Linked DNA regions of Homo sapiens. The protein of the gene in region 2 interacts with the protein of the main gene of each other region in a biochemical or structural test. Each region holds a gene or a part of one and is shown on either strand. Other genes may lie near its edges.

Evidence for each region. Proteins that work in one complex are often made in the same cells at the same time.
Region 1: of the proteins of SETD7 (region 2) and E2F1, one has a biochemical effect on the other in vitro, tested with the Homo sapiens proteins (3 studies listed by BioGRID).

Annotation. Positions count from the first base shown.
Region 1 is NC_000020.11:33,676,386-33,679,885, forward strand, and holds part of E2F1 (transcription factor E2F1), read right to left. Parts: coding exon 3,370-3,500; intron 1,969-3,369; coding exon 1,816-1,968; intron 1,157-1,815; coding exon of another isoform or gene 1,156-1,156; coding exon 1,041-1,155; intron 946-1,040; coding exon 720-945; intron 595-719; coding exon 347-594; 3' UTR 1-346. UniProt on the Homo sapiens protein: Transcription activator that binds DNA cooperatively with DP proteins through the E2 recognition site, 5'-TTTC[CG]CGC-3' found in the promoter region of a number of genes whose products are involved in cell cycle regulation or in DNA replication.
Region 2 is NC_000004.12:139,553,420-139,557,654, forward strand, and holds the start of SETD7 (histone-lysine N-methyltransferase SETD7), read right to left. Parts: upstream 2,801-4,235; 5' UTR 2,719-2,800; coding exon 2,679-2,718; intron 1-2,678. UniProt on the Homo sapiens protein: Histone methyltransferase that specifically monomethylates 'Lys-4' of histone H3. H3 'Lys-4' methylation represents a specific tag for epigenetic transcriptional activation.

The sequences.
Region 1 (3,500 bases), on a different chromosome or scaffold from region 2:
CACATGTGGACACACTGGGGCGTGTCTGCAGTGCACACACAGAGGTGTATGTTCACCTTCATTCCCCGGTACATGCACACACACATGCTCACACACATTCACCCCCGGTACACACGTGTGGGTGTAGGCTGCATGCACATACACACCACACAGACTCCTTCCCTTCCTGGCTTGCTCAGCCTCCTAGCGGTAGCCAGACCCCAGAGCTAGAAGCTTCTGGAGACAGAGGAGAGGGGTATAAATTAAATGTTTCCAAACAGGCTGGGAGGACGGCCAGGGACAGGGGGCTCCAGGGCTGCAGAGACAAGGTGAGCATCTCTGGAAACCCTGGTCCCTCCAAGCCCTGTCAGAAATCCAGGGGGGTGAGGTCCCCAAAGTCACAGTCGAAGAGGTCTCTGATGCCCTCGCCCTCCTCGAGGCCGAAGTGGTAGTCGAGGGCCTCGTGGGGTGGGGAAAGGCTGATGAACTCCTCAGGGAGGAGGCCGGAGAAGTCCTCCCGCACATGCTCCAGGAGCGAGTCGGCCGCCACCAGCGGGGACAGGCGGTCCTCGTCCACGGGAGCCCGCAGGCTGCCCATCCGGGACAACAGCGGTTCTGGGGAGACGGGGAGCATCACAGGCCGGGGATGCCCCAGCAGGGAGGAAGGCAGGGGCTGTCGTGCCTGCCCACCCCCCAGAAGAGGGGCCCTGCCCCACCCCACCCACCTACCCATCACCCACCTTGCTCCAGGCTGAGTAGAGACTGGCTGGGATCTGTGGTGAGGGATGAGGGGGGAGATGATGGTGGTGGTGACACTATGGTGGCAGAGTCAGTGGCCCTGTTCTCCTCCTCAGAAGTGACCTCCTGGGATGGGGTCTTCCCAGGGCTGATCCCACCTACGGTCTCCTCAGGGCACAGGAAAACATCGATCGGGCCTTGTTTGCTCTTAAGGGAGATCTGAAAGTTCTGGGTGGAAGCAGCAGGCAGGGTAAACTGAGGCCCAGGTGACCACCAGCCCAGCCCAGCCCAGCCCAGTTGGGCCCGGAGTTCCCAGATCTCACCTCCGAAGAGTCCACGGCTTGGAGCTGGGTCTCAGGAGGGGCTTTGATCACCATAACCATCTGCTCTGCAGGGTCTGCAATGCTACGAAGGTCCTGACACGTCACGTAGGCCAGGGTTGGCAGAGTCAAGGACCACATGACCTTTGACTTCTAGGGGGTCACTCACTCCAACAGCTCACAAGGCAGGGCTCACACCTGCCTAGTCACTCCTGTCCTCCCAACCTCCTACCCACTCAAAACCTACCTCACGCCTGAGTTTCAAGTTCCACATCTGTATAATGAAATCACTCTACCCATTGAATCCCAAGGTAATAATGGCTACCGGGAACGATTCCATGTAAAATGTTCAACACAACTCCAGGCCTGGTGCTGGGAATTTATTTTTTAGAGGCAGGGTCTCGCTATGTCACCCAGGCTGGAGTGATGTGGCTCAACCAGAGCTCACTGCAGCCTCAAACTCCTGGGCTCAAGTGATCCTCCCACCTCAGCCTCTTGAAGCACTAGGATTACAGGCATGAACCACCGCACCTAGCCACTTTTCTTTTTTAATCTGTACAATTTCAGAATTGGATATTATTATTCCCCTTTTATAGATAAAACTGAGGCCAAGAGGTTAAGCAATTTATCCAGTGTCACAACAGTGAGAAAATGCTGAGCCAGGACTTGCAACCAAAATCAGAGCTCTCTCTTAAATCCAAGCCTCTCTAGTCCCACTTGGGTGGAGCCCCTGCCTGCTAAGCCTGCCTTCCACACCCTACGGCCAATCCAAGGATATCGCTGGCTGTCAGTGTCCTCGGAGAGCAGGCGCAGCTGCGTAGTACAGATATTCATCAGGTGGTCCAGCTGCTGCTCGCTCTCCTGCAGCTGTCGGAGGTCCTGGGTCAACCCCTCAAGCCGTCCGCCGACGCCCACTGTGGTGTGGCTGCCCCTGTGGGGAGGCACCAGGGAGGGTAGGGTTAACAGCGATTGGCCCCTCTGGCCAGGAGCCCTGGGCCTCAGGACAGAGTCTGCTGTTGCCTCTGTTCTGTGAGGCCTAGGCAAGCCCTTGCTTCTGTCTGGGTCTGGCTCCTCAGCTGGGCTCCAAATCAGAGTGTCATGGGCTTGAAGTCTGGCCCGAATATAAACACCTACATGTCCCTCAACCAGGGCGGGATAAACAAATGATGGGACTGACATGCCACGAAATATTACACATGCACACACACATGCATTTCCAAGACATGCTGTCAAATGAAAAAAAAAAAAAGGCTGGGCTTGGTGGCTTATACCTATAATCCCAGCACTTTGGGGGGCTGAGGCCAGAGGATTGCTTGAGCCTCAGGAGTTTGAGACCAGCCTGGGCAACACAGTGAGACTCTGCCTCTACACAAAATCAAAGACATTAGCCAGACATGGTGGCATGTACTTGTAGTCCTAGCTACAGGTACGGAGCTTGAGCCCAGGAGGTTGAGGCTGCAGTGAGCTGTATTTGTGCCTCCATACTCCAGCCTGGGCGACAGAGCAACACCCTGTCTCAAACCACCCCCCTCCACCCAAAAAACCACAAAAGATGCAGAATGGAACGATCTACCAAAAAATGAAACGGCAGGTGTATCAAAGAAAGGGTAGTAGCATGATGACTGGCGCGAAGGCGAGAGGGGGAAAATAAAACAAGAATAAAATATCTATGCCAGACAGATCTCACCGAGGGCATGAGAAGCCAGGATAGTGGTGACCTGGCGGTGTGAGGGGTTGGCAATGACTGGAAAGGGGCACAAGAGAACCTTCTAGGGTGTTGAAAATGCTCTTATCTTGATCTGAATGGTGGCAACCCAGATGAATAAATATATAAAGCTGCGCGGGGCGCAGTGGCTCATGCCTGTAATCCCAGCACTTTGGGAGGCTGAGGCAGGCAGATCACCTGAGATCAGGAGTTCGAGACCAGACTGGCCAACATGGTGAAACCCCATTTCTACTACAAATACAAAAAGTAGCTGGGCATGGTGGCAGGCGCCTGTATCCCCAGCTATTCAGGAGGCTGAGGCAGGAGAAGCACCTGAACCTGGGAGGTAGAGGTTACAGTGAGCTGAGATTACACCACTGCACTCCAGCCTGGGTGACAGAGTGAAACTCCATCTAAAAAAGAAAAAAGTAAAGCTGCAACTGAGGTGGATATGTAAGATTTGTGTGCTTTTTACCATCTATCATCTCAGGGAAGCTACCTCTCCTCTCTGAGCCCGTTTCCCCAGCTATAAGATGGGGATGCAGGCAGCCACAGTGGGTATTACTACCAGCTCCTCCAGGCTGGCATGGGCAGGTGTGCCTGCCCTCCTGTGTGGCCGGTACCTACAGCCACTGGATGTGGTTCTTGGACTTCTTGGCAATGAGCTGGATGCCCTCAAGGACGTTGGTGATGTCATAGATGCGCCGCTTCTGCACCTTCAGCACCTCGGCAGCCCAGTTCAGGTCGACGACACCGTC
Region 2 (4,235 bases):
ACTGACATAATATTTAACTGTTGCTTCCAAACTCAGTTATCAAGTGTTTCATAAATTTGACTAACTCATTAAAAATAAAAAATGTAGGAAGACAGTTTGGTCTGGTGGAGGGCTGTTTTGGAAGTCCAAGCCAGTCTCTCCACCTCACTGAGTGTTCTTGGATTAGTCCTTAACTTCTGTATGCCTCAGTTCCCGCCTCTGTAAAATTAGGATAATATTAGTACCCACCTCATAAGACTGAATAAGACTGAATGGATAATGTCTGTGAAACACTTAGCACAGAGCCTGCACTTAATAAGAACTAAACAATTATAGCAATGATAATAATAGCTATGACAATGAAACTACTGAGAACAGAGGCTCTGTTTATGGAAAGAGGTAGATTAGTTGGTACTTAAACACTAAGATATTCAGACTAGCTTCTCTTTGGGAAAGAACAGAAGCAGTTTATACCAGTCCCCTATGTAAGTGTTAGATGTTATGTAAAGACTATTGCAAACAGCACTAAAAAGGCCAAGAATGGCTGGACAAGAGTGCACGCACAGGTACGGTTTACTGCATGTGCACACACACACTCCTGGCACTGTGCAAGTTAGAGCCTGAGATGCTTCTAGGGGCTTTTAAAGATTCTGTGCTGCTCTAATTGTTTAGTTAGCTACAACTGAGTGACCATGTGTCCCAGATTGCCCCAGACATTCAAGGCTTAAGCTACCTGCCCCAGCATCATTATTAATAGTGTGCCCTCTCATTCTCAAGGGGGTTCTGATTTTGGACAATAATGTACATAATTACCCTATAAAACAAAACCATCCCTGTTTATATGAACTTCCCTGTTTTCGAATCCAGTGGATGTTCTCAAAAAACAATACTGCCATTTCTAAAGCTCTTGGTCACAGTCTGCAAAGGAGCCTGAGGACTATGGACAACTGGACATATGTTTGTAAACAGCTTCAAAGGGGAATGGATGTGGTTTAACATGGAGAACAGTACCAGCAATTAAGGGTTTGTATTTAATTTTTACAAGTAAAAGTAAACGTTGAAGAAAGAGAGCAAGCCCTAACAATCTGAGATCATTTTTCCTTTATCTTTCACAACATGGAGGCACAAGAAGTCAACAACTTTTAACTTCTCAGAAGGCTCCCTGTGGATCAACTCAATCAATGTATCTGGGCCTCACTCCAGTAAGCCCCAACATTGGCTTTATTTATTAGAGAGATAAATAGCTCTGTGAGTTCACAACATGGTGAAAATTTTCTTAACAAAAACCACAGTCTTTAATTGGCTTCGAAGTTAGATGAAGAAATAAGTTTTAATATTGGCATTACATTGGATACTTTTCAAGAGTTCAGAAATATTAGTCTGCTTAATCTCCCCTTAAGATCTCAGAAGCACTGCAAAGGGAGTTATGTTTATGAAAACATTAAAACTGATTTTTCCCTAGTGTAACAATAACCATGTATCCTTATGCATTTGTAGTGTCGCCACTTTTTTTCTTTATCCTTCGTCAGAACTTGTGTTTATACAAATCAGACAGAAACCAGATTCAACCAACAGCTAAAAATTATTTACTCACATGCTTAGTTTAAAACATTCTGGTATCATACCACACCACACTGAAAAACATCACGACGTACTGTATGGAGTGGAACCAAATAAATACGCTAAAGAGTATTTTCCAGTATTCGCTGTTACAAAATCATAACATCCTATGATACAAACAACGAGATTGTATAACGTCCCCACATCGTTTTTTCAGAACTAACAAAAAAAAAAAAAAAAAGGTGGAGAAACTCAGCAAAACAAAGTGGCGAGAAAAGTCGGGGGAGGGGCGGTAGAAGAGAAGGGGCGGAGAAACACGACACTGAGGCGGTGATATCACCCACAGCCAACGGCATGGAATTCAGAAAGTTAAGTGTCACCCAGCAATCTCGGTGCGGACTCGCGGCGCGCCTGCACAGCGTGGCGGCTGCATCCCAGCCAAGCAGGAAGGGGGAGGGGGAGGCCTGACTGAGTTCGCTCGGGGGCAGCTGAGGGGAGGGCTGCCCGCCTCCCGGACGGCGCACGTTCGAGTCCCGGGTCGGGAGACTTGTCCGTCGCCCGACAATGATTTCATCTTTTCGGAAGAGCTGCCGCCTGGGCCGCGGCTGCCACGTGCCTGGTCTGGCCCCGTGCGCTGCGCCGGGGGACCTACCCGGACGGGGCCGCGGCCGCCGCGGGGCGCAGAGGCAGCAGAAGGGAAGGGCTGGCGGCCGGGAGGGGATCGGGGTGGCCAAAACTGGGCTAGGGGATTGCTCCGCGGAGTCCGCCGGCCTCAAGGGGCTGCCCTGCGGAGTGCACCCACCCTCCGCGCCCAAAGGCGGAAAGGCCAGAGCGCGGGGCAGGTTTCGCAACTCCGAGGGTGGATGCAGGCTGTGGCCGGGCGGGATGGAGCGGCCGTGCGTTTCCAGCGCCCCCGGCCTGGCGGAGCCCCATTCTCGGCCTGCGCCCCGCCGCGCAGTGCGCGCTCCCGGCGGCGTGACCGTGGCTGTCGGGCCCCCGCCCGAGCCGGGCAACCGGCCACCCGTGTAGGGGACAGTGGCGGCCGCGGGGCCCGGCGCCGCGCTGTTCGCAGCCCGCCACTCCTTCCGCGCTCCAGGCCCTCTGCGCCTCCTCCCCCGGCCCCGGAGAAATGCTTGTACCTTCCACCGCCTCCTCCACCATCTCGTCGTCGCTATCCATGGCGGCTGGGGACACTGCCCAGCTCGGGGCTGCGCGGCTGCCTCCCGTCCCTCTGGGTGCTCCCGGCGGCTGAGCGAGCTCTGGGGCTCGCGAGTTTGGAGGAGGAGGAGGAAGAGGAGGAGCAGTCGGGGCTGGCTCGCACTGCCTCCCCCTACAGCCCTTTCAATTCCTTGGCCTTCAGCTGCTGCGGCAGCAGCCGTCGTCCCCCCTCCCTTCGCCCACTTGCCCCTCGCCTCGGAGGCTCCGGTGTGCCGCCTTGGCCGCTGCCGCTGCTGCAACTTTCTCCTGTAATACCCTCTCTTTGTTATCGAGCAGCTGATCCGCTGACATCACCCAGCGCCGGTGCGCTCCCTCCCTCGCTGATTGACAGTTCCCTGTCCCTTTCCAGAAGTAAGGCTCCTTAAAACGAAAGGCGCTCCGGGGCCGCGCGTATTCCGCGTCCCAGCCAACCCGCCTCCGGCCCGTCAGCGTTTCTCTTTTGCTTAGGTGCGGCTTGGCGCGCCCCGAGCGCTCAACGCGGTCCTGGGCGCTGCGGGCTTCTCGCGGACACTTGGACCGCCCGTAGGGGCTCCGAGCTCCCGACCTCCCGTTGTGCCGGGAGCAACTTGAAAGTCCGTCGTGCACTGTCCGTGTTCCCTCGAGACAACCTCCAAAGTGCCAGGGAAGCTAAGGAAGCGTTTCTGACGCTCTGGCGCCTGGACTTCCTCTCACCCTCGCCCCCACATCACCCCGTCGCCACCGGGAGCTGCACGAGTGCGACACGCAAGGGAGCGCAGGTGTCCTCGCGGTCCCGCATCACATCCGCAAGCCGATTTCCCCAGCTCGGGGGCTGTTATCTGGCCCGGATTCCGCAGGATGGCGGGTCCACCCCAGCGCCCCCACTCCCCGCCCTCCTTCGGGTCGCCAGGCCCTCGGGTGATTCAGAAATTCATCAAATCCAAATGGCAGCGGGCTCTCTGTCAGGCAGGAAACAAGCCGCACCGAAGGCTCGGCAGGTTCCTCCTTGCTGCTGTGGTAATGGAAAAGGAGCCGCCGAGTGGAGCTAACGAGGAAGGAAGGACCCTCCGTCTGGCGCGCCTCTTTCCCGCGCCTCCCGCCCTGTACGTGTGATGTCCCCAGCTGTCTCTCTGTTTCTCCAAGTGCCAACCACTTCACAGATTCAGGCGTCCTCAAGTGGAGAAAACCATTGGGCACCCGGCTTCCGGCCCGGCCACTTAGTGTCGTTATGGCGCTGCCTCTTACAGGTGGCGGTAAAGGGCGACTGTAAATAGCCGATTAAACAGATGTAAATGTACACAATGTACCGTGGAATTACCGGGTGCCGCTCTGGGCACCCGCCAAGAACAGCTACTGCATGGAGGGGAGGAGGGAGCAAAAAAAAAGTAATTCCATTTTGTTTTCTGATCAATGAATGAGACTTTGGGGATTTCAAAATACTTCCAGCGCCCAGGAGACTACTCCTTGCTTTTGGCTCTGTGCTTAAATGGTAGATATTTTTGTCAAGTATTGCCGGCTTG